7 linked regions of the Homo sapiens genome follow. The protein of the gene in region 2 purifies or fractionates together with the protein of the main gene of each other region. This does not show direct contact. Each region holds a gene or a part of one and is shown on either strand. Other genes may lie near its edges. The genes, in order: POGLUT3, ANXA5, CPNE3, HMGCS1, PLS3, SUCLG1 and HARS1.

The links.
Region 1: the proteins of ANXA5 (region 2) and POGLUT3 fractionate together in Homo sapiens (co-fractionation; one large-scale study listed by BioGRID). This does not show direct contact.
Region 3: the proteins of ANXA5 (region 2) and CPNE3 purify together in Homo sapiens (affinity purification with mass spectrometry, with the first as the bait; one large-scale study listed by BioGRID). This does not show direct contact.
Region 4: the proteins of ANXA5 (region 2) and HMGCS1 fractionate together in Homo sapiens (co-fractionation; one large-scale study listed by BioGRID). This does not show direct contact.
Region 5: the proteins of ANXA5 (region 2) and PLS3 purify together in Homo sapiens (affinity purification with mass spectrometry, with the first as the bait; one large-scale study listed by BioGRID). This does not show direct contact.
Region 6: the proteins of ANXA5 (region 2) and SUCLG1 fractionate together in Homo sapiens (co-fractionation; one large-scale study listed by BioGRID). This does not show direct contact.
Region 7: the proteins of ANXA5 (region 2) and HARS1 fractionate together in Homo sapiens (co-fractionation; one large-scale study listed by BioGRID). This does not show direct contact.

The regions. Positions count from the first base shown.
Region 1 is NC_000011.10:108,495,499-108,500,002, reverse strand, and holds the start of POGLUT3 (protein O-glucosyltransferase 3 isoform 1 precursor), read left to right. Parts: upstream 1-1,618; 5' UTR 1,619-1,636; coding exon 1,637-1,838; exon of another isoform or gene 1,839-2,042; coding exon of another isoform or gene 2,043-2,202; intron 2,203-2,784; exon of another isoform or gene 2,785-4,504. UniProt on the Homo sapiens protein: Protein glucosyltransferase that catalyzes the transfer of glucose from UDP-glucose to a serine residue within the consensus sequence peptide C-X-N-T-X-G-S-F-X-C. Can also catalyze the transfer of xylose from UDP-xylose but less efficiently.
Region 2 is NC_000004.12:121,679,867-121,683,830, reverse strand, and holds part of ANXA5 (annexin A5), read left to right. Parts: intron 1-353; coding exon 354-467; intron 468-2,069; coding exon 2,070-2,160; intron 2,161-3,022; coding exon of another isoform or gene 3,023-3,075; exon of another isoform or gene 3,076-3,964. UniProt on the Homo sapiens protein: This protein is an anticoagulant protein that acts as an indirect inhibitor of the thromboplastin-specific complex, which is involved in the blood coagulation cascade.
Region 3 is NC_000008.11:86,552,125-86,556,088, reverse strand, and holds part of CPNE3 (copine-3), read right to left. Parts: intron 1,239-3,964; coding exon 1,105-1,238; intron 1-1,104. UniProt on the Homo sapiens protein: Calcium-dependent phospholipid-binding protein that plays a role in ERBB2-mediated tumor cell migration in response to growth factor heregulin stimulation.
Region 4 is NC_000005.10:43,292,777-43,296,740, forward strand, and holds part of HMGCS1 (hydroxymethylglutaryl-CoA synthase, cytoplasmic), read right to left. Parts: intron 3,142-3,964; coding exon 2,976-3,141; intron 2,086-2,975; coding exon 1,915-2,085; intron 1,387-1,914; coding exon 1,280-1,386; intron 198-1,279; coding exon 72-197; intron 1-71. UniProt on the Homo sapiens protein: Catalyzes the condensation of acetyl-CoA with acetoacetyl-CoA to form HMG-CoA, which is converted by HMG-CoA reductase (HMGCR) into mevalonate, a precursor for cholesterol synthesis.
Region 5 is NC_000023.11:115,644,452-115,648,415, reverse strand, and holds part of PLS3 (plastin-3), read right to left. Parts: intron 3,396-3,964; coding exon 3,317-3,395; intron 2,345-3,316; coding exon 2,230-2,344; intron 2,015-2,229; coding exon 1,881-2,014; intron 867-1,880; coding exon 743-866; intron 524-742; coding exon 399-523; intron 1-398. UniProt on the Homo sapiens protein: Actin-bundling protein.
Region 6 is NC_000002.12:84,428,186-84,432,149, reverse strand, and holds part of SUCLG1 (succinate--CoA ligase [ADP/GDP-forming] subunit alpha, mitochondrial precursor), read left to right. Parts: intron 1-490; coding exon 491-642; intron 643-3,964. UniProt on the Homo sapiens protein: Succinyl-CoA synthetase functions in the citric acid cycle (TCA), coupling the hydrolysis of succinyl-CoA to the synthesis of either ATP or GTP and thus represents the only step of substrate-level phosphorylation in the TCA.
Region 7 is NC_000005.10:140,677,795-140,681,758, forward strand, and holds part of HARS1 (histidine--tRNA ligase, cytoplasmic), read right to left. Parts: intron 2,090-3,964; coding exon 1,994-2,089; intron 1,334-1,993; coding exon 1,208-1,333; intron 222-1,207; coding exon 114-221; intron 1-113. UniProt on the Homo sapiens protein: Catalyzes the ATP-dependent ligation of histidine to the 3'-end of its cognate tRNA, via the formation of an aminoacyl-adenylate intermediate (His-AMP). Plays a role in axon guidance.

The sequences.
Region 1 (4,504 bases), on a different chromosome or scaffold from region 2:
ATAACCACTGCTTAGCATTACTAAAATAGGTCAAGAGAAGTGTGAAAATGTGGGAAAGATTTTGCCCTGGTAAAACTTGGTCACAGCAAGAATGCTGAGTAGCACGGTTAAAGCCGTGAGGCGGACAAAGGCTTGTCCAGTGCCTGGCTCTGATGTTTTGGGCATTAAGTTCCCCCAAGAGGGTGCAGAAATCCTGTGTCCATTCTGGGGTGTGAGTTCCTTCTGGATCATTCAGCCAGAGGAGAATCTTTATTGGCTTTAAATAAATTCAGATCTATTAACAATCCATTAACAAATTTGTATCCATTAACAAATTGGATAAAATGATCAAAAAAGAGAGGCAGATAGTAACCTTGACAATCTCTTCCTGGATCCAGCGTTCATCTTCTGAGGAGTGGTGGAGGTGGCTGAGACCAACCACGCACCACCACCCCTTCTCCCACTTCGATTACAGAGGCTTTGAGGTAAAGCTCGCACAAGGGCTCAAGGCAAGGCCTGGTCTTCTGCCACCCCAGTGCCCAGCTCCTCACTCTGGGCTTGGCCCAAACTCCGTGGATGTTCTGTAAACACCTGCTGGAAGAAGAGGAGTGCGGGAGGAAGCGGGGAAAGGGATGTGTGGGGTGGGGGGATCACGGTTCTGTGAGGGAGGCTGCTAAGCAGAAAAGCAACAAAACCGGCCACAAGAGAACGGTGCTGCTGTGAACAGAGGGCTGTGAGGGAGGGCGGGGGGCGTGACCTTGGCGCTCATCTTGTAAACTCGGAGACATTCCTTGGGAAAAGATATTTCCCTAAACTACATCGATCTTGGGGCCGGACCCTTTCATCGTCCCACAACAATCACCACCGGGTCTACGTCCTTTAAAAACACCTGAGCGGCGGACCCGGTGGCTCATGCCTGTAATCCCGGCACTTTGGGAAGCCGAGGCGGGCGGATTGCTTGAAACCAGGAGTTCAAGACCACCTTGGGCAACATAGGGAGACCCCGTCTCTACAAATAGTAATAGTAATAATAATAATAATAATAATAATAATAATAATAATAATAAATTAAATTAGCCAGCGTGGTGTCGTGTGCCTACAGTCAGTCCCAGCTACTCGGGAGGCTGAGGCGGGAGGATCTCCTGAGCCCACGAGTTCCAGGCTGCAGTGAGCTGTGGTCGCGCCATTGCACTCCAGCCTAGGCGACAGAGCCAGCCCCCTTGTCTGTATAAAAACAGAGAAAGAAAAGAGAAGAAAGAAGGAAAGGAAGGAAGAAAAAGAAAGGGAAAGACCACTGGAAGTGGAGGCCAGGCGTGCCTGAAGCCTTGGCAATCAACAGCCAGCGCACACTCGCAGCCTCGGTCTCTGGGCGGGCCTCTCCACCCCTTTCCTCCACGGGGCCTATGGGGCTGCGGGGAGGAAGGGGCGCACCCATCGTCGACCCCTACAGGGCGCGCAGTGGGTGATTGCGGCACTGGCTCGCGTTCCCGCCCGAGGGAGACGAGGCGGGACAGCGGGCGGGAAAGGGAGCCTGCGCCGCAATCTTTCCCGCCCGAAAGACCCGCCCCGCGGTGGGCCCCAGTCCCCGCCCGGTCCGCGGCGCTGCCGGCCCCTCCTCGCCGCCGCGGAGCTGGACCGCAGTTGTGCCCCGCCGACCATGCGCCGCCTCCCGCGGGCCCTGCTGCTGCAGCTGCGCCTCGCCCTGCTGGTGGCCGCGGGGGCCCCGGAGGTGCTGGTCAGCGCGCCGCGGAGCCTGGTGTGGGGGCCCGGGCTGCAGGCGGCCGTCGTCCTGCCGGTCCGCTATTTCTACCTGCAGGCGGTCAACTCGGAGGGCCAGAACCTCACTCGCTCTCCCGCAGGTAGTGTCCAGCCGCCGGCCTCCCTCGTCCCGCGGCCGGGTCCCCGCGCGTCCCCGCCGCCCGGGAGTCCGCCCGCGGCCTGCGTGGCGTCCCTCCCCGGCGTGTGTCGCCCCTTTTTGGGTCTGGTCAGCTCCTCTTCCCTCCTCCCGCCCATACTCAAAGCGGGCAAAAATCACCACGAAAGTTTGTGGAATGAATGAATGAATGAACTTGAAGGGCCCTTCCGCATTTAATGTGCAGGGACTGATGTTGCGAATGGACGGCGCCCGGGCGTTACAAGGAGTGTGCCGTGAGTCACACGTTGCCTTCCATCTCGGACTTAGTTGTCTGAACTGTGAGGGATTGCAGGGAGCGCTTTCCAGTGGTGAGTCATCAAGCCGACGGATCGCGTCGGATTACATGGCTTAGGCCTGGTGGGTTTGGAGCAACGAAATCCTACGCAGAGGAAATGTCAGAGCCGTAGGAAGGAGGAGGGGTTTACGTGTTAGTTTTTTGTTTCCTTTTTAGTTCTGAGTTTTTGAAAGCAGATTACAGGAACTAGGGAAACTCAGTAGAAATCATTCGGTTTTCCCTCCACGGAGGGTGAGATGGATCTCGTCCTGAATCCCTTTCTGCCCGGTCCTCCTCCCACGTTGTCCTTCACGTCTTAACCTTTGCAACTTCTTAAAACTTGTCCTGCTGGTTTCACGCTGTTGTCAGTCAGGATTTGCTAATGTATAATTTGGGGCTCTGGCCAACTAGCACCTTGTTGTATCAGCGAAGAGACAATTAGAATAAACCAGTGCCTCTGCCCCTGCTAGTCCAGCTGGGAACATAGCTGCCAGAAGTGTGTCCCAACTTGGGAAAGGGGTAAGGGGGTCTTGACAGCTGGGCAAAGCAGAGAATTTAGGAACCAAACATAATTCACTTTTAGATTTAATGATTTTTAAAATTTCATTCATTCAAGAAATACTTCTTTGATGTCTACTTCTGTGTTTGGTAATTCTGCTGGGAATCTAAGGATGAAAAGACAATGCCTGACCATCAAGGAACTTACAGTCTGTTGGTCAAAGACATGCAAATAACTGATCACTGTACAAGATAATTGAAGGTATGTACAGAGTGCAGTGGCAACATTGAAGCACTGCCAGAGACTGGAGAAATCCAGGAAGATTTCAGGAGCAGAGACTTGAAGGATGAGAAGGTTTGCTGGGCAGGCATATAGAAGGACGCCATGGCATGTGCAGAAGCACAGAGGCGTAGGAGACCGTGGTGTTCGGGAAAATAAGTACTGTAATTTAATGATACTGAGCGGAAAAGCCTGGTTGATTGTAGCCTCTGGTCTTCAAGCGCCTTGAATGCCAAGCAAATGACTTTATAACTAGATAAAAGAGAGCCACTGGAGAAATTTGAGCTGAGGCAAGAATCTGCCTCTCCCTTAACTACCTCAGTGGCTTGTTTTCTACATTTGATTCAGAACACCACTCCTGAAGTTGTCTTTGGGCATTGCTTTGATAACGTGTCTACCAGTTAGACCCTAAATACTCAGACAACTGGTTTCATATGCATGATATGCATTTAGGTAAAATAATTCCGACTCTATTGACAGAAACGCATGTGTGTATATCAGGGTTTCACAAACTTTTTCTTTAAAGGGCCAGATAGTAAATAATTTAGGCTTTGTAGGTGATATCATCTCTCACATTTATTCAGCTGTGCTTTGTAGCCATGGACATATAACAAACCCGTTTATGTTACAATAAAACTTTTTATGGCCACTGAAATTTCAATTTCATATAGTTTTCCATAAGTCACAGAATATTATTATTTTGATTTTTCTCCAACCCCCCTCCTCCTTTTTTTTTTTTAAGAGACAAGGTCTTTGTCACCCAGGATGCAGTGCAGTGGTACAGTCATAGCTACTGCAGCCTCAAATTCCTGGCCTCAAGGGATCCTCTTGCCTCAGTCTCCCCAAATGCTGGGATTACAGGCATAATCCACCATGCCCATCCCCATTTTAAAAATATAAGAATCATTGTTAGCTTACAGGATTTACAAAAACAGGCACTGAGCTGGATTAGCTAGTTTGTCAATCTCTAATGTATGTTAAAGACTCTCAGTTAAAATCCAAATGATACATGACTTAAAGTTGTGTATATGTTTTATATGTACATATATTATATATACATAAATATATTTAAACAAACGAAAAAGTTTACAGACAGTTTCTATTAAATATCTTAACAGAAGGAAAGTTACATTTATGATTCTGCATGGTTTACCCCTGTGATCTGTGACTTTTCTTTTTTTACCTTTTTTAGTCTTAGAAAGACTTCTCAGCCTGGGCAACATAGCAAGATTCCATCTCTACTTAAAATAAAAATTTTAAAAATTACCTACTTGGGAGGCTGAGGCAGAAGGATCAGTTGAGCCCAGGAGCTCAAGGTTGCAGTGCATTATGATTGTGCCACTGCACTCCAGCCCGGGCAACATAGCAAGACCCTTTCTCTAAATAAATAAATAAAATGGAACTTTTTGGACAACCTTACTTTCATTCCTTTGGATTCCCTTTGTTTCCTTTCAGGCCTCTTGATTTCTGGCTTCCAGTTAAAAAGGTGCCGTATAGTTCTGAAAACTCACCCAACTAGTTTCTTACATTTCTGCCACCAACATTCACTTCCAAGTCC
Region 2 (3,964 bases):
ATTTCATTATATGATTATTTTTTGAAATTACAAAGAAGATATGTTTCTCAGAATAGTATTTTTATAAAATAGTTTTAGACTACTTTTAAAGGTATTCTTTTTTTTCAAGTTAAGAAAAACATCTTTTAGAAACAAATATCTTGACGTATAAGTGGGTTTGCTTTAGTTTAAGATTTTGGTCACAGGTTAAAAGTATGTTATTCAAGGTTATAGGGTTTTGTTTAGCTCATGGGCCTTCTACTTGGAGACAGCAACATAAAGAATTCATTAGAGCAAAGGACTGTCATTCATATTTAAGAAGAATCTTATTACAATTTCTGCTGGTTAACAAATTTGTATTTTCTGTGGGTTAGGATCTTCTGGATGACCTGAAATCAGAACTAACTGGAAAATTTGAAAAATTAATTGTGGCTCTGATGAAACCCTCTCGGCTTTATGATGCTTATGAACTGAAACATGCCTTGAAGGTAAAAAGGATGAGTGAAAGGAACATTCTTGCATAGATAGTATTATTTTGTTTTGGTAATTACTTCCTCTTATTTGTTATATTTAAAAAATTTTATCTGATTATTTCAGTGAGAGTTGCTTGGCAGACAAAACTGGGAGGCAATAAGCAGTAAAGGAGGGAGAAAATTACACGTGTGTCATTTCATCTTTTTGTAGATTTAAACTCAATAATACTGGGCTGTTTAAAATTTTCATATTTTTATAGCTTTTTGTATTTTATTTTCATGCCTGTCTTCTGATTTTGAGGATGTTTAAAAAATATTACAGATGAGCTATTTTATCTTTTTCAGTAGAAAATTGCCTGATTAGGGAACCATAATATTGCTCATCATTTTAGGTTAAAAGGTAAAGCTTCAGAGAGAATTTTCAAGATAAATATTTTCTCATACTCTTTCCTTCTTTCCTGCCCCTCTAAACACTAAAATGAAGTAGCTGGTAAACTTGCTATAATTTCAGTTGCAGCAAAAATTAAATATGTATTCCCTTGACTGGTGTTTGGAATGTTGTATAAATATGAAGGCATTGACACATTTGTTTAGGCTCATGGGACAGGAAGTAGTTCAGTTGTTAGCTGTTAGATTTTGAATGGGCACATTGAGATTTAACAAGGAAATAATGTTTCTCAGGGATTCTTACTGATGGAGTGGAGAGAGGAGAAGGGTCATCCTGATAGGAGCTGGTTTGTGCTCAGTCTCTTCATTTTCCTATGGTGATTCTTTTGGAATAAACAAAAATCTGAGGTTATTGAGAAAAGCACTTTTTTTGCTAAGTACTTCTGAAATGTCAGCAGTAGTTGAAATTCTGCCAGAGAATGAACTCTAGGTTTTTCAGTGCTTGATTTTTGGCAAAAAATAGAAATATAAAGAAAATAAGGCTTCAATATACTATCTTTTAAAAAAAATTAAGTCCAGCTATATCGTTGCATCTCTTAGTTTAATCATATAGATGTGATTTTTAAAAGCAGAAAAAGGAAAGCCAACTAAAATGATTTTTCAAAAATCCAGAAAGCAAGTCCCAATTCCTTTATACTGTTCTAATTCCTAATAATTAAGTATTGCTATATTTATTGTTACCTTTGATGTAGAATTTTCCTGTGACTGCACAGCACTTAACTTGGGGGTCAGGGGTTTATCTTTTGAGGTGCTTATTAAGTATCAGTGCTCTTCCATGTACATTTACGTGAAGTTTTCATTTTTACTCTTTCGGTTTTTAAAAAATTACTTCATGTTTCATGAAAATGTTTTACTTTTAAGCTAGAATTAACTGATCAAATTAAAAGTTACAAATTTATGTAACTGGTTATGTATACGTACACATATATACACACATACACATGATAAACATTGTTTTCCATTAGGCAAAAAGAATAAAATGGTCTTTGGAGAGAAAATCATTTAAAACTTGTTATTTCTATAACTAATAGAACTCATATACAAAGAAATCCATGTTATACTGGATAATATTTATATAACTATGCAATTTGGGTAACATCTATAACTTTCTTTTAATAACTTTCTTTTTAATCTTATTGACATGTTTTCTCTATTAAAATCTCCAAACAGGGAGCTGGAACAAATGAAAAAGTACTGACAGAAATTATTGCTTCAAGGACACCTGAAGAACTGAGAGCCATCAAACAAGTTTATGAAGAAGGTAAATGTTTGTGAGTTATATTTTGACTTCACCTCCACTATCACTTCCTTCATTTCTGTGATTTGAATGCAGTCCTTTGTAGGTATGGGAGGCACGCAGTAAATGATGGATGAATGAATGAATGAATGAATGACCTGCAATTCAAGCTATTTTTCTCCTTCAGTAAGGAAAAGACTGCCTTGTTATCCTCTACTATTTTCATATTTTATAAGAAGCTACTGCTGAAGATGGAGTTTACTTTTGCATAGGATTTGCAATTAGTGTAGGGATATACAGGTTGTCTTTATGTTAACATTAAGGTAAAAATGGTTTTTCCTCCTTTAAAAATATTTAGCTTTATGCTAGCAAAATTTAGGAGTTATATAAAAAGTACTTTTGGAACTTTGGAAGAGAAACCTAAACCCTTTCCCACATCAGAGTTGATAAAGTACATTTGAGTAAATGTATGTTGTCTTAGCTAATGGCAGTGCTTGAATAAAATATTCTGCATTTTGATTTTTCTTTTTAGTGTGTCTTTTATATGAACAGAAATCTGCATTTCGGCCTAAAATATGTCTCATGAATAGAATCAAGAAAATGAAGTAAAAAGTAGAGGTAGAGAGTCCTTTTCTTACCAGATTTCTTGTAGCCAACTCTTTCTCCTGCCTGACTGAGGAGGGTCAGACTATCCAGTTTCTCAGCTCAGTCAACAGACTCCAAGCCTAGTGTCTTTTGCTAGGGGCTGTATCTTGCCATTAGTTTGTTAATCTTAGAAATGGCTTTGTTAACCCAGCAAGTCAAAACAGCAAAAAATTGTTTAGAGCAACTGTATAATTACCTTTCTAAAGGGCTGAATCTCTCTTTCCTGCTTCTCTTTTTATAGGCAGTAAGTTCCCAACCGCTAAGGCAGAAGTGATACATGTATCTCAACTTTGAACTTTATTTGATGTACTATTCAAAGATCTCTTTCTGGGGATGTTGACGTTGATGAGAGCCTTTGTGCTACTGGATTACAAATGGTGTGCTCAAAGGGGGTAATAACTGTGTGGTCTGTCCTACTCAGCCGTGTAATTGAGCACTGGCTATGTGTCTGGCAGTGTGTTAACAGGCTGTCATGAGTGACAAAAGGTGTGCATAACACAGCTCCTGTCCTCAAGCAGTTTGTGTGCAGTCTCCTCAGTGGGTGACATGACAGAATGACTGCAATATTTAAAGGATAATGAAATTCAAACTAAAGTAAAATACCAATGATGTTAAATGCAATAATGCATTCAGAAGAGAGAGGTCATCATAGCTTTGGATGTTAGGGAGGCTTCATGGTACAAATCACACATGCAGCAGAGTTTCAAGACTAGGTGGGTTTACAAAGTGTCCATTGACAGATGAATAGATAAAGAATACGTACACACACACACACAAACACAGACACACACACACAGGAGTACTGTTCAGTCTTAAAGAGGGGAAATCCTGTCATTTCAACATCATGGATAAACGTGGAGGACATAATGCAAAGTGAAATAAGCTAGGCACAAGGCATAAGCTATGCATGATCTCACTTCTTATGTTGAATCTAAAAAAATTGAACTCATAGAAACAGATAGTAAAACAGTGTTTGCTAGGGTGTAGGGGTGGGGTGAATGGGAGAAGGGACTGGTGAAATATTGGTCAAAGCATACACGATTTTAGTTAGGCAGGATGAATAAGTTCTGGGGATCTCATGAACAGCGTGGTGACTATAGTGAAAGTATAACTATTATATGCTTGAAATTTGTGAATACAGTATATTTTAAATGTCCTCACCACACACAAAAATATAGACTAT
Region 3 (3,964 bases), on a different chromosome or scaffold from region 2:
AAAACATGTCCCCTGAGCAAGTCAAGCAATGGCTAATGGCATCTCTGGCTTGATGAGTCATCCAGTCTTTCTTGTTCATTTTCCTTGCCAGTCTCTACCCTAGCTACCACCACATAAAATATTCTAAGCTTCTCTGATGACAAGGAAATTGACTCTTACAAAAACTGCAGGTTCATTAAAAGCGCAGCAGACCACAAAATAGGGTTGGCAAAATATATGGAAGCAGGACATCTAAATGTCAAAGATTAACCTTTCAGTAAGGCTAGGAATAAACAGTTTTAACTCAAGTATTAAATATGTCAAAGTATCTATCAAGGAGGCAAGTGGAAACTTCATTCTCAGAAGATCAAATAAATACAAAAATTATTAGAATTAGAATATTAGAATACAAAAATTTTAGAAGCTAAAATACACACAAAAAAATAGATATGGTTTAAGTGATGAAATCATCCCCCAGATTGTGTCACCTAAGATAAACCTTTTCAGAGAGCAGTAAAATGTTACATCAAGTAGTGACTCCATCTTTTGGGCCATTTAAGTCTAGAATAGGAATAAGATTTACAATATTAGTTAACATATGTTGAGTGTTTACTCTGACCCAGGCATTGTGTACTTTATATGAATTATCTAACCTTTTCAACAACAGTATGAGGTAGTTTCCCCTAACTTACTTCTGAATATGCTGAGGCTAAGAGAAATTTGGTATCCACGGTCCAATAGGTAATGGTTACCTCATTCAAATATCTTTAGTACAATAAGAAATCTTGCAACAGCATCTGATGTGGTAACTTTCCTTAAGCTTAATTTGTTATGTCTACTTCAAAAAGGTAGATGATAGGCATTTTTTTTTTTTTGGTAGAACCTATCTAAGAAAGTTAATTCCAAGGATAAAAGACTCATGAATGCCAAGTGTTGTTTTGCTGTTGTCTTATTTTTAACGATCACTAGTATAACAACAACAAAAGTTACTCCCAAACCAAGAATGACTGTGTTATTGTATCTTGCCCTGACTTTGTATTATGACAAACCAAAAACATAGAAAAATGGCACCAGGAGCTGCTACCAATCCACATTCTTCCCATTCCCTGGCCATAGAGCACTTACAGAAGCTGTCTGCTGTTGCGTGGCTGCAGCAGCAAACCTGGCCACGTGATTTATGATTGGAGAAAAATTAGTTGGTCCATAGAGTTTTATCTGAGGAAGACAAGACCGATACGCCTCTACAATGCCTTGGATTCCTAGAACAAACAAACAAATAAAAAACAGTACTAAAAATTCTCAAGCACAATGTGTTTATTCACAATACTGGCTAATTTGATTATATGTATCAACATATAGTGCTTTAAATAGTCAAAAGTTCTATAAGCAGTAGTTCCTCTAAGCTATGTATTACATAACTCCATAGGTATGATCCATTGCAAAAACCTATAAGCTCTGTCCTCCCCCAATAGAAGGGATTTACTTTCATCTCAGTCAAATTACTTATTAGTCTACGGTAGGACTGTTACATCTGTGCTTAATTTTTAATACATGTTGGGAATGTGGCTCTGATAGAAAACCATGAAAAAGGTTTCACATCATACAACTGATGATGAAAGGTAAGAAAGAGTTATTAATAAAATGAAAAATCATTTGCATATATGGCCAGAGGTTCTACAAAAATACCAGATGGCGATAAACCTAATATTAATTCTAGTTAATTAACTGATACAAGTGTTTATTCAATAAGTTAAAGGTTAATCATTGTATCACAGACTGCATTAGTTCCAAATATTCACTTCCAGGTTACTTATCCATTTTGCTGCAGAAGCACTGATGTGTTTGTTTAGGGGTACTACCCCTAGACCTGCTGGTGCATTTTATAATAGAAAGTTGGACAGGACCATTTGATTAGCTTTGACCAATGCATGTGACACCCATACCTAAGGAGATGTCTTAAGAACTACTGCCTGTTTTTTCCAGCTCTCTTGCTCCTTTCCTCTGCCGTAGGAGCAGCACATCCCAGATAAGGCTGTTCCTTCAGCCTGAGTCCCAATATAAGAAACATGGAGAGAACTCCAGCCTAGCTGCATGTAAAATGAGCAAGAAATAAACTGTTGTCATTAAAGCCACTGAGATTTAGAGATTGTTTATTACAACAGCACAACCCAGTGAAAGCTGACTGACATTGCTGGTCAAAGCACTGCTGATGAAACTTGTATCCCACACAAGCACCTGTTGAATCTGCCCTTAATATCACAGCATTTAGGATGCAGACAGGATAACAGAAATTCTAAAGAATTTCCAACAATACTTGCTGAGATCATCACAGATACTTGCCACAAAAAAAAAAAAAAAAACTTAATGTAAATCAAAACAGGTCTCTTGCTTTTAAAATGTCTAAGAGAACACAGATCAACAAAAAGGAGAAGCATATACAGTCATGTGTCACTTACCAATGGGGATAAATTCTGAGAAATGCATCGTTAGGTGATTTCATCATCGTATGAACATCATAGAGTATACTTACACAAACCTAGATGGTATAGCCTATTACTCCTAGGTTAAAAACCTGTACTGCATATTGCTATGCTGAATAATGTAGGCAATTATAGCAACTGTACCTTTTCTATGTCTTTACAGTAAAAATAAAATATTAAAATCTTATGGGCCTACTGTCATACATGTGGTCTGTCCTTGACTAAAATGTCATTTTTAGTGCATGACCATACTTGGCTTGAAAGCTTCAGGAAACCAACTCTCTTCTCTTAAAATGTAAGAGTTCCAATAAACTCCTCTTAGTTTCTTTGAATTTAGGAACAGGTAGTCTTATGAACAACCTTTGAGAACATAACTAATTCATAGGCAGGGGTGATTTTACATGCAGAAGGTCCATGTTACTAGTAGTCAGTCCAGTAGTAACAAAGGTATAAATAATTCATTTAGGGCTGGGCACGGTGGCTCATGCCTATAATCTCAGCACTTCGGGAGGCAGAGGCAGGTAGATCACAAGAGGTCAGCAGTTCTAGACCAGCCTGGCCAACATGGTGAAACCCTGTCTTTACTAAAAATACAAAAATTAGCCGAGCGTGGTGGCAGGCGCCTGTAATCCCAGCTACTCGGTTGTGGGCGGGGGGGGGGGGGGGGCGGGCTGTGGCAGGAGAATTGCTTGAACCCGGGAGGAGGAGGTTGCAGTGAGCCAAGATCGTGCCATTGCACTCCAGCCTGGGGGAAAAGAGCAAGACTTCGTCTCGAAAAAAAAAAAAAAAAAATTAATAATAATAATAATTTCTTCACAAATATCAAGAGCTTTCAATTCCTTAATTAAAACTGAATTATGCCAAAACCCTTTCTATGCATCAAAGTAACAAGTTATTTCTAAGGCATATTATTTCTAAGGCAACTAGATTCAATGATTAGTTAGGAAAAGGGGATTAAACTTCCTTGCCTTAAAATAAGGCTCTGAGCTTTTTGCTGTATAGTATCTCCTTTGTTTAAAACCAAACTGATGCTTTTTCCAGAGTGTAAACCACTTGGTGAACAGCCCAAGGATGGGCTTACATTACTCACAGAGTGACTGAACTTCTAAAATGAATTATCATATGATATGTCATCCATATTCATTTACAATAAATGAAAGCTAATTACAACAAATTCTAAAGATTATCCACTTTCATTATAAAAATGAAGCATATTTCTTAAAAAGAATAACATTCCCAGTTTCAAATGGCTAGGGAATAAAAGAGGTCACAACCAGTCACTGAAAGTGCCTCAAAGAACACTGAATTAGTATGGAAAAAGTGTTCTGGGGAAAAGAACAAAACCATATTGCAAACGGCCGCCACAAAAATTGTTCATGCTCTTCCACCTTATGAATATTGTTTAGGAAGAAAAGGAAAAAACATTTTCTTCTGTTAGAAAGCTATACATTTGTAATTGTCAAAAGGACCCTTTGCAGAAAATTAGAGTATTGTCTAGAATTTTA
Region 4 (3,964 bases), on a different chromosome or scaffold from region 2:
CGTATATGTAGCATCCTTAATGATATCAGCCCTCCAAATGGGTTAACTTAAAGAACATTTAATATTTTTACCCAAATGATGGGTGTCCTCTCTGAGCTTCATGTTTTCAGCGAAGACATCTGGTGCCACACCAGTTCTTGAATCAAGCCTTGATTTAAGATCACATAAACTTGCTGTTATTTTATCAAGAGCAGACCCTAAAATAGTGAATAATTCAACATTAAAAGATTTTTTTGAAAAATCATGTCCAAAAGAAGCCTAAGTAAAATGTTGCCAAATGAGGCAAAACAACTTTTCATTTTCATTAAAACTACTGGCTACTGATTAGTTAAAAGATAAGATGATACCTATTTGACAAATCTCCTATGATGTCAGACTAGAAATCTATTATTGAGTATCTGCCACTAGACAAGTTAGGAAACAGGCATAATTTGAAACTATAAATAACTTGTCTACAATTAATCCATGGTACAATTATTTTATTTTTATTATTTTTTATAGAGATGGGGTCTCACTATGTTGCTCAGGTTGGCCTTGAACATCTGGCCTCAAGCAATCCTCCCACCTCAGCCTCCTGAAGTGTTGGGATTATAGGTGTGAGCCATTGCACCTGGCCCATGGTATAATTTTAAAAAGTAATGTCAAGTTTTCATCAGTTTATCTCTACATTTTTGCTCTTTCCTGCTCAGGGAAAGCACAAAAGTGACCTTAAATATAGCCAAGACCATAAGCCTATAAAAATTAGATAACTTAGTCCTATCCTTTATCCAGATAAGGTAGAATTTTTTTTTTTTTTTTGGATAGATTTTTAGGGCAGAGAGTAAAAACCTACTGAAAGAAGTAATGAAGACTAAAATATTGTAATGATCTGTGGGACAGATTCAGGTGCTCACTTGAGAAGACTGCTAAATCAACTTCCCCAGAGTAGTTCTCAATACATTTTTTTTTTTTTTTTTTGACAGAGTCTCGCTCTGTCACCCAGGCTGGAGCACAGTGGTGTGATCTTGGCTCACCACAACCTCCCTCTCCTGGATTCAAGTGATTCTCCTACTTCAGCCTCCCAAGTAGCTAGGACTACAGGCATGCACCACCTCACCTGGCTAATTTTTGTATTTTTAGTAGAGATGGGGTTTCAGCCATGTTAGCCAGACTGGTCTCGAACTCCTGACCTCAGGTGATCTGCCCGCCTCGGCCTCCCAAACTGCTGGGATTACGGGTGTGAGCCACTGTGCCTGGACTCAGTTCTCAATACATTCTTGTTGAAAGATTCAGCACTTACCCGGTGTAGCATCTTGTGTGACTTTAAGAGAGTACAGAGTGGCAGCCAAACCAGAACCATAAGAAAACACTCCAATTCTCTTCCCTGCTAATTGCTGAGGTGAGTACCTATGTAGGGTGTAACAATAGTTCAGAAGTTTAACTGATCCAAAGCTACAGCGTGTGGGAAGCTATAAAAGTAGCAATAAAAATTTAGGCTATAAGTAAAAGTAGAATCTAACTTAAAGTTTTAAGGATCTAACTCAAAGTGTTAATATTGCAGTAGGGAATATAACTTAGTTTTAATATTGCAGCATGTGAGTTTTCATCTTGTGGGGAATGACAGAGCTTGTGAAAGTCATGCCACAAAACAAGTTACTTCATCAACCAGGTATTTATGGTTCAACTGTAGGTCAAGAATTAAAAAACCATGAAAACAGAAGCCAGGAAAGCCAGTATGAAATTAACAAATACTTCTGGAAGAACTGTAGCCTCAACCCATACATCTTTCAAGTCAATGGACAATAGCAGATTAGAGAGCCTCAAGATAAAATTTTCTGTGATCTACCACCAACATGCTTGACACTAGATTTGGTCTTAGAAATCTAACATCTCCCAAATAAGGGGAGTTAAGTAGTAGGTGAAATTTATACTTACTGTGCTAGAACAGATGCAAGGGAACCATATACTGAAGATGTGTACATATTTCCATTTTGATTTGATACAAGTAAAGATGCCTTTGTTTTCTGACTGAAGAGTTCAGAGCTAGCCTTCATAAATGCCTTCTCCACATCTCTATCAAAGTAGGTGTCTTCTAATTTAACATCCCTGAAAGATTTATTTTACAGTTTTACAGTGTTTAAAGCCTATGTTTTTATTACACTAAACAGCAGGCCTAATTAGGATTCAAATCTTTAAGTGTATATAATTGTTTTCTCATTTATTAAAAGCCAAGTAGCAGCAATCTAATTGCTATAGAAATCATAACAGTTGTATATATATGGTTCTTTTTCTCAAAAGTTTTCATAATCAAGTTAAGCCTGCTTGATTTGAATAGGTTAAAAGACGCACTGTAGCTTTATATTTATATTCACTTATATTGGCTTCAATGAATAGAATATTCAATCAACTGAATATTCATCAACTGAATAGAATACTATTTCAAGTCCATAATAATGTTTATTTAGTTAGAAAAGTCATGGTATTACAGGAGCCAAGTTTTAAAAGTCAAGTATAATTTTATCAGATAGAGAAAGGACACACAAGAGACACAGGGAGAAACAGAACGAGTTGAACACACATAGCATGCTAGGGAGCCTAAAGTGAGAAAAAGACAGGTGGAGTACAAAAGCTGACTTTAGCTGTGGCAGTGTGCAGGATGGAAAAGGGCATGGGGGCAGGGGTGCTGAGAGAGGTAAGGAGTTAAGAGGCTGCTGTAGTGAATATAGGCCCTTGTGCAGTTACTTTATCGTGACAACATGAATGGAGCTGAAAGAAATAAATCAGAAAATCTGAATAGAAATGTCTAAAGAATTTGTGCATGTTAACTACCACCTCTCTGGACTTAGATTCTTCACTGACTGAGACACACAGATTAGACTGGATGACTTCTAAGATTCTTCTGACTCTCAATTTCTCAGGTCTGTACAAATAACAGCTTAACAGATATTAAAAATGCTCTAATATAGAAGGAAAAAACTCATAATAGCTCCTCTTACCCAAAGGCTTCCAGGCCACTATAGATACTATTTTTATCTCTATTCTGGTCATTAAGGAAGTCATTCAGCAACATCCGAGCTAGAGATTTCTGAACCAGTTTACAATATGGTGAGTGAAAGATCATGAAGCCAAAATCATTCAAGGTAAAATCTTTATCATTTCCCTCTGAAAGAGAAGTCCAAGGAAACTATGAAATTCATATAAGCCATGAAATTTTAAAGTTTGACTTTAGAATAAAGCTAGGATATTTGTATATGTTTAAACAGCAACCACAAATACACTGTATAATGAAACCTCTCTATACCTTAAAGTATACATTTAAAAAGACACTCAAAGATGAAACAATATGTACTATGTCACTAATTTTCAAATTTAAGATTCATACACATTAGCAGGTTACATAATCAATTTAGTGGGTCAGGATTAGTATTTTTTTTAAATAAAAGAGTATTTTAAAAAACAAAATGCAGTAGAAAAATAGCAAACTGAATAACTTGCAGCAAGGGTAAGTAATGTCATGACATTTTTGTTTCAGTCTGGCATACACATACAATGTAACATGTACTTCTTACTGTGGGTCCTAATAAAAAAGTTAGAAAACCACTATTCTGTTAATATATACTGCAAGAATGCTTCTTATCCAGAGCGACTAAATTCACTGATATTTGTCATTGAATATGATTTTTAACCCCTTCTCATAACCTCTAAAAAGCAAAGTTGGACTACAGAAAAAGTATACTTTATGTAATAATGTGTTATGATAGCATTAACTCAAATACTGTCCTTTCAGTGCCTCAACAAATTTCCAGATTAATGATAACAGTAAAAAAACAAATACAAATTCACAGGTCAAGTGCAAAAAGATTATTTTTGGGGTAAGATCACTTTAGTAATTCATTTTCATTAGCTTTCCCTGAATCACAGCTGTAGTCCAAAACCTTGTTAAAATACCTCTCTCAAAAGATGAACAAAATTCAACTTACCTTCT
Region 5 (3,964 bases), on a different chromosome or scaffold from region 2:
ATCTATGTATAGTAAAAGAGACATAAGTGGATAATGCGTTTTTTAAAAAAAGAATGAGACAGACAGATGAACACCCTAAGCTCTTATTTTCCTTGTAAAGTTTTACCTGATTTGCATTAAAATACATGCTACATTATTTCTGTAATCCACTGAAGCAACAACCGACTAAGCACCTAGTAGGCCAAGCACAAGGCTAGGCTCTTATAATTTTTAAAAATTTAATCTTTATAAAATCTAAGGTAAGTATTATTGCCCCCAGTTTATTGATGAGGAATCTGAGGCTCCAAGAGGTTTCTCCCAAGGTGACACCACTCTTAAATGGCAGAACCTGAATTAGAATTCAGATCTGTCCAGCTACAAAGCTGCGTTCTTTTCATACTATTAGCAGTCTCCCTTACTTGGCATTATTGTGCTTGTCATCTTCTGTTAGATTGCCACTCTTCACAAGGTCATAGTTTATACAGCCTGGCTGGATGGCATCAATTAAATCCACAACTGCCAAACTGGAGCTGATCGTCTTGTCCTAGTGTGAAAGGAGAACAAATCTGAGAATTTTGATACATACAAATTAACATGTGCTTACTTATATCAAGTGCCAAAAACAAAGCCCAGTGAATTCGTAAAGAATTGTGCCATTAGCCCAACACTAATTCTCACTCACAAAGAAGCCAAAAGTTGCCTTCCCAAATGATAGATGTTATCCAGCAAACATAATATTTAATAGTCAAATATGGATTCTGACCTTAAAACTCTGAATGGAAGTTGATTTTCCAGCTTCACTCAACGTTCTGTTCACCCAGTTCACAATGATGTCGTCATTGGCTTTCTGACCATCTCCAAGATCTTCCAGGACATTGAGGGTATATCTAAGAGAGGCAGCAGAAGAAAACGTCACCATCTACTTTATGAGGAAAAATGCAAACATCAGAAAGATGCTTTATCTTCCACTTTTTATATTTCTTAAATTTTTCTTCTTTTTTTTGAGACGGAGTCTCGCTCTGTCGCCCAGGCTGGAGTGCAGTGGCGCAATCTCCTGCTCACTGCAAGCTCCGCCTCCCGGGTTCACACCATTCTCCTGCCTCAGCTTCCTGAGTAGCTGGGACTACAGGTGCCCACCACCACGCCCGGCTAATTTTTTATATTTTTAGTAGGGACAGGGTTTCACCGTGTAGCCAGGATGGTCTTGATCTCCTGACCTCGTGATCCACCCTCCTTGGCCTCCCAAAGTGCTGGTATTACAGGCGTGAGCCACCACTCCTGGCCCCTATATTCCTTAAATTTCAAGGACTAAAGATTTCATGGAAAGAGATTCACACTATGTGAAAAAAATATTTCAAGCAGTAGTGGCTTGCTACTGATCTACTCTTTGTAGTGGTGAGAGAGGAGCAGATTGACAGTGCTTTAATGAGCAGGTCCAACAGCCCACTGTAGGCACATTTTGTACTATTCCAATAGCGGTAATGGCATAAAATAAGCTGTGCTTTGGCTGGTGCCCAGTCATAATGAATGCTTTTCAGCATTATAGTGATCTTCATCAGCATTACAGAGAGAGATCTTTATTTTCAAATGAGCATGAAGATGTTCATAATTTTGTTCTGACAATTTTTTAATTCACTGACACTAAACGAGGCCGAAATCTGTGTGTCAGGCTTCCTATTTTTTAAAAAAGGGACTAACCATAGTTCTGCTGCCTAACTTGCAAGGAAGCATCTCCCACTTAACATCCAACATATATTCATTAATTAAACTCATTTCGGAGTGTAAATATAACATATTTCAAAAGTGTAGTTATCGACATATCCACTTATTAAACACAGTAAGGACTAAATCACAGACCTGTATGATAGTAAAGACTAAACAGCTAAAATTGTGTACTATACCTTCTCATCAGCTGCCAGACTAAAGCTAAAGTCAGGGTTTGGTTCCCATCATTCAGGTCTTGCCCTCCAATGCCAACCAGGGAGAATTTAGCAGGATGCTTCCCTAATTCAACAGCATAGTTGCAGTTTTCTAGCTGCAAAGGCACAAGAGTAAATGGTTAAAGACTTCCATTTGTTTAATCTGCATACGTGTGTGTGTGTCTTGTATAATGCTAGGTATCAGCACACAAAAACAAATAAGACACAGTTTTGTCCTCAAGAAGCTCAGCGTCAAGAGTTTTAGAAACAAAAGAAATTAATCGAGAATAAAAATACTCTAACAAATATATACAGCAACTTAATTATCTACCTTTTTCATGTTGGCTCCCAGTTTCGGGTATGGAGGTTTATTAACCTTACTCCAGTCAACAGGAACTTTAATTCGTTCATATAACTGTAAGATTACCAGGGCATCTTGCAGGTCACTAATGATTTAAAAATAATGTAATCAGTGTTTTCAGGAAGCTGGGACTTGACTTTCCTTAAAAACAGTAACACTACATTGTCAAACAAGATATATAAAACCATAAATAATACCCAAGACTCATATTTTCTATCAATCTGTGCTGAAAACAGAGCTAAGACCATCCCATTCATTTATAAGTATTTATTGAGAGCTTACTGTAAGCAAGGCACTGTTCTAGAGGCTGGGCCCACAGGACAAAAATCCCTGTCCTTGCATTAGAGTCAGAGAGATAGACAATAAACAAGTACATGGATAAACAAACAATACGGGGGGTATTGGTTTGTTGACAATAAACAAACAATTTTAGGGGTGTATGTAAGTGCTATTAAGAAAAAAAGGAACTAGGGTTAGGGGTTAGAGAGTAGCAGGTGGTAGTCAGGAAATCTTTGAATCAGTGACTGGAATACAGTAAGGATACGAGCCACTATATGCGAGCAAAGAACGTTCCAGGCTGAGAGAACAATGAACCAAAGTCCCTGAGTTGTTGTGGATGGTCTACTTAAAGGATTCCCTGGTCTCTGTTTCTTTCTTTTTTACCTTTCTTTTTTTTTCCCTCTTAGAGATAGGATCTCACTTTGTTGCCCAGGCTGGAGTACAGTGGCACAACCATAGCTCACTGAAGCCTCAAACTCCTGGGCTCAAGCAATGCCCCCACCTCAACCTCCCAAACAGCTGTTTCAAAATATAAAGTATTTGCTCCCTAGGGTACTATAAAGACATTTATATATTCTATCACTTACAGTTAACGATCATGTAAAGGAATACTTAAAGCTTTTGTGTATTTGGAAAATGATGATGGAAATCACCACTTGACATTTTCCAATATAAATAATAGCTACAAATTAATATCTAGAAAATCTTTAGAGCTGTCATTATTTAACATCCATTCATGACATTCGTAACTGTTTACAATAGCAGTAGGAAGGCTTACGCATAGAGATGGTTTACGTGAGGATTGACACCAAGAGAGTTCATCCAGTTACGGAAGGTTCTTTCTTCACGAGTTTCTCCTGTTAAGAATATTCACAAAATTTACTGATTCATTAAACACTTTATGTATGTGCATATAGTGCCAATACACATATTAGATTATTTTATCTCTCTATTCAGATCTAGAATTTTTCGATAATACGAGTTTCCAAGCATTCTTCTAAGTACATACATTCTCTCTAGGTACAGGCTTATTTTTAAAATTTGAATTTATTTTAAAATTAAAGAATACAACCTTATTCTAACCAGTTAAGCAATTTAGAGGTTTATGAACTTTTTATAGTCTCCTTCTCAAATCTTTCTCCAATATTTCCTCGAATCTGCATCCCTCAAAGTAACTGATGTTATCAGTTAAGTTACTGGTTTTATAGAAATATCAGTGGACACTCAATGAATTACTATTTGCATTATTTATTTATTTATTTATTTATTTATTTATTTTTGAGATGGAGGTTTGCTCTTGTTGCCTAAGCTGGAGTGCAATGGCACGATCTCAGCTCACTACAACCTCTGCCTCCCAGGTTCAAGGGATTCTCCTGCTTCAGCCTCCCGAGTATCTGGATTACAGGTGCGCACCACAATGCCTGCC
Region 6 (3,964 bases), on a different chromosome or scaffold from region 2:
GTCACTCACTGGCACTTGTGTCTTAAAACTTGTGGGTGATTTATCTGCAGCATACTTCATCAAATAGTTTCTTTACTCAAAGAAATTTGTTAAATGTTTATTCTTTCCTCTGGTGTAACATCAGCATGCAACACAGATACACATTTTCTTAAAATGTTCATTTCTAAGGAGTTATCTGGGAATAATTTTGTGGGACAGAAGAGGCTTGATAAAGGAGCTAAAACAAAAAGAGGGTTGTCTTCGTTACAGCCCTAGAATATTCCTAGAATATCAGGAACCAACCACCATTTAGCATTTATATAATATTACCAACAGAAATAAATGTAGCATTTTGTGATTTTTTAAATATTAAATGCAAGAGCAATGATACATTTAAAAATATAAGAGAGAAGGGTAAGAAAAATGACAAACTAGTTAAAAACATTTATTGACCTAAATTCCATGGTTCACCCTTAAATTTCCAGCTATTGATATTTTTCAACTTTTTCAGGCATTGGAGGTGATCCTTTTAATGGAACAGATTTTATTGACTGCCTCGAAATCTTTTTGAACGATTCTGCCACAGAAGGCATCATATTGATTGGTGAAATTGGTGGTAATGCAGAAGAGAATGCTGCAGAATTTTTGAAGCAACATAATTCAGTAAGTTTGGGTTTGGAAAAACATAGCTCTTTGCTCTTAATATCAGAGGCTTGTTTCAGAAGTTATTTTTATTTTTTCAAAGGTGAATTTTTTGAGAAAACATGAAAGATAAAACTTTCTGAGCAGGGCCTTCTATACTGGACACTCAGACAATTCTGTATTATTTCTGGGTTGATTCTCTGCTTCTCTATTCTGAACTCTCCTCCCCAGGCATCACCCCACACTTTGTGGTAGGTAAGTCGTTCTCCTGCTGAACAGATACATTCAGGCCATCAGCCCGAGAGCCCGCACTTGACCTGCAGACTTGGTTTTCACCTGTGACCAGTATTCTTTCTCCCGATCTCAGAGGGAAATAAGTGGTTTTTTCTCTTTTTCAAGGCTGACCTAAAGATCCTATCCCTTGTGCTTTTTTTCAGGCTCTGGCTTCCTTCCAGTTTTAGACTTTCCTTGTGGAATGGCACTTCCCTTCAGAGATCAAGTAGAAAAGCTTTACTGTCTATGTCCTGGGGAGGCTTTCCTTGTTGCTTCTCACTTAGAATTAAATGTAAAGGAGTAGTGTTGAGTTATGTCATCATTTCATTCAGCTTGAGGGAGTTAAGCCCTGTTCCTGTGGTGAAAGGAGAGATGGGGGTGCGGTAGTGACTGAAGCAGTGTGGTGGCCACCAGCCCCCACTCAGTGAATTTGTGCTGTGGCCATTGTTGTGTCAGAGAACTGTGGGAAAAAAATCAAGCAACTGATTTTCAGAATTTCTCTTATACTGAGGAATGAGTGAAAATTTTTCTTCAGGGGACCAGGCAAGAGAGTGGAGATCACTTTCTCTCTATATGTATGAAAAAAATCCACCAGTGAATGAATTAAATGCCACATAAAATAATACTGGAGAGTTAAAGGAACCAATAATATCATGTACAGGGTGGTTTACACAAAACAAGGCATATTTATTTGTGTTTTAAGGAATTTTCAAGGGCTATTTTGAATATACTTGATTTTCTTTTGTGGTGATTTTAAGCCCTAACTCCCATATTAGATATGACTCAGGTTTACCCTCATTCTCTCATTCTCTTTCCTTACTTTTCATTCATTCTTGAATCCTCAGCAATCAGGCTCCTGTCTGTCACTTAGAAGCTATATGACCTTGGGAATGCTTAATCTCTCGTTGCCTCAGGTTCCTTATTGGAAAAATGACGATATAGTAGTGCCTGCCTCCTAGAGTTATTGTAAGGACTGCGAAGTTTAAATGACTTAGTAACGTATAGCAAAGTAGTGCCCGGCACTTAGTAAGCACTCTTACTGAGCCACTGGCTGCTGTGGAATCTTCTTACTCTCCTGACATTGTGTTTGCACAGAGGTCACCAGTGGCCTTGATTCATTCGTCATCCTCTCCATCCTCTTGGTTTCTTTCTGGTTTTCCTCCTCTTTATCATTCCCTGGATCTATTTTCTGTGCCTATTTCTATGGCAGAAACCTGAGAACTAACTTTTATTTCTCTCTTATCCTGTTTCTACTCAGTTACCAAGATCTGTCTCTGAGACATCAGAGGTTTGTCTGGATTCAGAGCCTTGTCTGTACTTAGTCCATCTACTTTGGTTTGGGTCCTCATCCCATCTCATCTGGACCATCTCAGTGGTTTCCTTCTTGATCTCTCTTATTTTCTCCAACCACCCCCCTTTACTCTTAGGCCATTCTGTTTATGGCCACCCAAATTATCTGCCCTTCTGAAACATGGGTATTGGTGCTGTTTGTCCTTGGTTCACATCAGACAGTGTTTCCCATGTAATGTTTCCCATTACATGTCAGCTAAAGGCAGATTTAGCATGGTATTCCAGTCCTTCACATACCATCCAAACCTTCCCTTTTAGATCAGTTTTCCATCTGACATGCCAGTTTTCATTCTCACTTGCCTTTGCTTGTTCCTTCTGCAAGGAATGCTTAGTATCTGACTTTCACTCTAGACTGTGTTATGGACTGCAGGGAACTGTTAACTTCAGTGCCCTGCCCAGTCCCCTGGCACAGTGGGCACCAATACAGGTCATGTAAATGGAAGAGTAGATTGTTAAGGATTGGAGTAAAATGTTAGATTCCCTTGTGTTCAGAAAGTTGTACAGTTTGAAATATAAGTAAAAACTGACTTCTTTAAAAAAAAAAGTTTCGGTTAATACAGCATTGTGCTGTGTTAAGTTGAATTTAAAATGTATTTGGGCCCAATTCTGAATCCCTGGAATAGCCTAGTATTTAGTGGGAAAAATGAAACATAGACATTTTGTTTCATTTGGCAACATGTTTCCTATTCCTGGTTAGTTGTTATGGAATTAATTTTTATTGAGAACCTAATGTGTACAAGATTGTAAGTTAAGCAGTTCAGATGCTGCATTATATAAAATGCCTAGTGTAATACTTGGTGTAAACACTCGATAAACATGATCTGCTGCTGCCTTTCTTGTTATCATTACAATGATGATAATTATTTGCAAACGTTCTGGTGTTTAACTTTTATCCTGATGCTTTGGTAAGTTGTTTTTGTTCTTTCTTTATGAATGAGAAAACTGGTACAGGAAGATTAGTAACTTGACAATGGTAGGTATACAGCAAACGAACTGGGGTGAGATTCATACCCAGGTTTGTCTGACTTCTCCATTTCACCATGGAAGGATGAGGTGTCAGATTGAAGGAGTTAAGGACAAAGAGTCATCAATCCTGGGCATAGGCTCAGACTACACTGATAGCATTCTAACTGGCCTTTCTGTTTTTAGACATACCTTTCATCATTTTTGTGTCCTATTTTCAGACTACACTTCCCCATAGTCTTTTAGTTGTAGTTCTCTCCACTTAAAAAACAAAAACAAATAAGCCTCCAATGGCTCTTTGTTAATGGGACAGATGCAAATTTGTTTGCCATTCTAGGCTCAACAAAGTCTTGATCCTTTCTAGTGCAACAATATTCCCACTTTTTGGGGAACAGGGGAGTGGAATCAAATACAAATTAATGCCACTCAAACATGAGATTCTCATATTCTATGTAGATCTTATGAGTGAATGAGTAAATAATTTGTGGAGTCTTTTCTTTTTAATTCTATACCATAGGTACTACAGTAGGTGCCAGGCATACCGAAGTTAGTGAAAATATAACCTCTGTGTTCAGGGAATTCATAGTTTAGTAGAAGAACACACGGGGAATAGGTTATAGCCAGTGTGCTGAATTTAATAGTAGAAGGGTGTAAAAGGCACAACAGGGTCACTGATGAGATGATCACCTATGAGGGCATTTGTGGGGAGGGTGGGAGGGAGAGATAGAAAAGGCTTATGGGGAAGAGGAAGCTAGAG
Region 7 (3,964 bases), on a different chromosome or scaffold from region 2:
TTACATGACCTGCAATAGTCATGGTCACTTAGGCTACTGGTCCCTCTGCACAAGGATCTTCTCTTGTGAGAGGCCAGGCCCAACTTTGCCCTCCCAGCCTTGTCAGCTCTGACCTTGACCAGGAAGTCGCCTATCTGAAGTGAACTCAGGATCTCGCACATGATCTTCAGGCACTCTGCATCAGGGATCATGGGATCAAAGTTCCCAGCAATGTCAAAATCCTGCAGGGAGAGGGTTAGCCAGCGGTCTTCAGGGATTCACCTTTCTGAAGGGGGGACTCTGGGAGCTCTGTCCTCTAGGAAGGCCTGGTTGCACTCAAGCATAGAATTTCTCTTTCATTTTCTGATCATCAGCCCAGAGGTAAACCCCGGCATCTTTGGGCTTCTCACCAGTTTTGGTTTCCTTTCCATCTACTGGGCTATTCCTTCATTTTCTACTTCATCATCTTCTTAACTCCTCCTACTGGATGGGGTGATTATATGGCTTTAGTGCTTAGCCATTTTCCCTATTCATCCAGAAGCCCTGGCATCAGTCTGGATGATTTGATGTATCAAAGCTAATTTCCTTATTCTCTGCTGTGATCCTATCACTGTGGTTTAAAATAAAGAGCACTGGACCAAGAGTTCTAGTCCTGACTTTGCCTTTCTTATCCCTATGATCTCTTCATGGGCTGGGTATCAAGTTTACTCATATGTAAAATGAAGAGACTTTATTCTCCTCCCCCACCACAGGGATTTTGTGAAATCTGCATGAAAACACCATAGAAGAGGCTGGGTGCGGTGGCTCACGCCTGTAATCCCAGCACTTTGGGAGGCCGAGGCAGGCGGATCATGAGACCAGGAGTTCGAGACCAGCCTGGCCAACATGGTAAAACCCCGTCTCTACTAAAAATACAAAAAATTAGCCGGGCATAGTGGCAGGCGCCTGTAATCCCAGCTACTCAGGTGGCTGAGGCAGAAGAATCGTTTGAACCCAGGAGGCAGAGGTTGCAGTGAGCCAAGACTGCACCACTGCACTCCAGCTTGGGCAACAGAGCGAGACTCCGTCTCAAAAAAACAAAAAACAAACAAAAAAACCACCATAGAAACCCTAAGAGCATTATCTGGGTCATCCAATTTGCTCAGGACACCGTGAGTACTCAATAGATTCTGCTGGCTTGAGAGAGCCCCAAGTAACTCATCCTGCCCCACGGTTTCCCAACACTCACACACTGGTAGAATTCCCGGTATCGGCCACGGGTCATGGCTGGGTTATCCCGCCGATATACCTTTGCTATGTGGTAGCGTTTAATGTTGGTCAGTTTATTCATTGCCAAATACCGAGCAAAAGGAACCTGATGACAAAGAGTTAAGGAGAAAGCCCCTCCTATCACTGTCTGCAAGTTGATTATCATCACCAACAGAAGCTGGGGTCTAACCCCTCCCTATGTGGGTAAAACTGCCACCCATAAGATTAATAGCACTTACAAACATCAGAAAGCATCAGCTGTGCTACCACATGAGGTAGCTGAAGGCTCAAAAAAGATTAAGGCACCTTTCCCTTTTGTAGTGTTGACTGGACTTTTTTGAGCATGGCAAGGGGCTGGGCAGGTTGGCCACAGACCAGAAAAAGGCGACCAGAAAAAGGCCCCCATATGGGATTTCTAAGCAGATGATTCTCTGTGTAGCTTGGAGACAAGGGAAATGTGTTGCTAGTCCATTAAGAAGAATTTTGTTCACTGGACAGGGCAGGGGAGAGGTATTCTGGAGCCAGGGGATGACTGTAGAGTTGGAACTGGGCCCTGACATCAAGCTGAGGTCTCACTCAGGATTCAGAAGATTTCTAAGGATGTGTATGCTCTGTTTAGCCAAAGTTCCACTCCTGGTTTAGAGAAATAATTCCCCTAATCGCCAAAGGCCTCATATTTGATCCTACCTACTCTACCATTCTTAAACCTGAGCCAAGTGAGTGCCAATCCATCCAAAGTCTCAAGAGCCCAAGTTTAGAAAGATACAGTGAGGTCATAGCGAAGGGACAGGAGCTCCCCGCCCTGGTCCTTCAGGTCATAGATAAGCTTGGAGTCTTCCCCATACTTTCCCATCAGTGTTTCCTGGAGAAAACATAAATAAATGTGGTCATAATAATAAACATAACAATTTAAAAGGAAGTTTTGAAAACAAACATGACTGATTCCAACTTGTCTACATTTCCCTCTGCTCTTTATCCCAATTCTTAGGTGTCTGATGTAGTTATCATTAAAAGGAAACACCAATTTTGTGTTTTTTTCTATTTTGATTTTGTAACAGAGCTGAAGTATTTTTCTTACACATTTTCCTCTTAAAAATCTTTTTTTTCTTCAGACTTCTCAGCATGAAGTTTGTTTTTTTTTTTTGAAATGGAGTCTCGCTCTGTCACCAGGCTGGAGTGCAGTGGCGTGATCTCGGCTCACTGCAACCTCTGACTCCGGGGTTCAAGAGATTCTCCTGCCTCAGCCTCCAGAGTGGCTGCGACTACAGGCGGGTGCCACCATGCCCGGCTAAGTTTTGTATTTTTAGTAGAGACAGGGTTTCACCATGTTGGCCAGGATAGTCTCGATCTCTTGACCTCGTGATCTGCCCGCTTCAGCCTCCCAAAGTACTGGGATTACAAGTGCGAGCCACAGCGCCCGGCCTGAAGTGTTTTTAAAAGATGCATAAATTCCAGTGAGAAGAAGCTCTGTACTTACTTCCTCCCTCATGTTATACTGTTAGGTGTTTAGGTTATTCTAATTTAAAAAAAAATTTTTTTAGGCCAGGCATAGCGGCTCACGCCTGTAATCCCAGCACTTTGGGAGGCCAAGGCGGATGGATCACCTGAGGTCAGGAGTTCGTGACCAGCCTGGCCAACATGGTGAAACCCTGTCTCTACTAAAAATACAAAATTAGCTGGGGGAGCTGGTAGGCATCTAATCCCAGCTATTCGGAGGCTTAGGCAGGAGAATCGCTTGAACCCGGGAGGCAGAGGGTGCAGTGAGCAGAGATCGCACCATTGCACTCCAGCCTGGGTGACGAGAGTGAAACTCTGTCTCAAAAAAAAAAAAATTCCCCATAACATTTCAATATCTAATATTTAGGTATATAGCTCTTTTTTTTTTTAAAAAAAAGTATTTTTCTTGATGATAAACTACTAGGAATAGGTTATCAGACCAATAAACATAAATGTTTTTTGATGCCTGAGATTCGAATAATGTCAAAAGTAAAAACTGGGGAATGTCTTAAGGGCATTACAGCAGTCCTTGCCCTGTGATGTCTATCATCGGTAATAGCATATTTCACTTACCAGGTTGGCAAAGATTAAAAAGCCTGAAACTTCCCAGTATGCAGTATCAGAAACAGTAACACACTAGTGTTACGGGCTGAACTGTGTCCCCCTGGCCCCACCCTCCCCAATTCATTTGTTTAAGTCCTAACTCCCAGTAACCTCTGAACATGTCTACATTTGGTGATAGGGTCTTTAAAGAGATGATTAAGCTAACATGAGGTCTCCAAGTTGGGCTCTGATCCAATATGTTGTTGTAAGAAGAGAAAATTTAGATAGGGACAGAGGGAAGACGATGTAAAGACAAAGGGAGGCTGGGCGCGGTGGCTCATGCCTGTAATTCCAGCACTTTGGGAGGCTGGGGTGGGCGAATCACTGGAGGCCAGGAATTCAAGACCACCAACCTGGTCAACATGGTGAAACCTCGTCTCTACTAAAAATAGAAAAATTAGCCAGGTGTGGTGGCACACGTGTTGTAATCCCAGCTACTTAGGAGACTGAGGCAGGAGAATCGCTTGAACCTGGGAGGTGGAGTTGCAGTGAGATGAGATGGTGCCACTGCACTCCAGCCCAGGCAACAGAGCGAGACTCTGTCTCAATTAAAAAAAAAACAAAGGGAGATGATGGCCATCTACAAGCCATGGAGAGAGGCCTGGAACAGATCCTTCCTTATGGCCTTCAGAAAGAA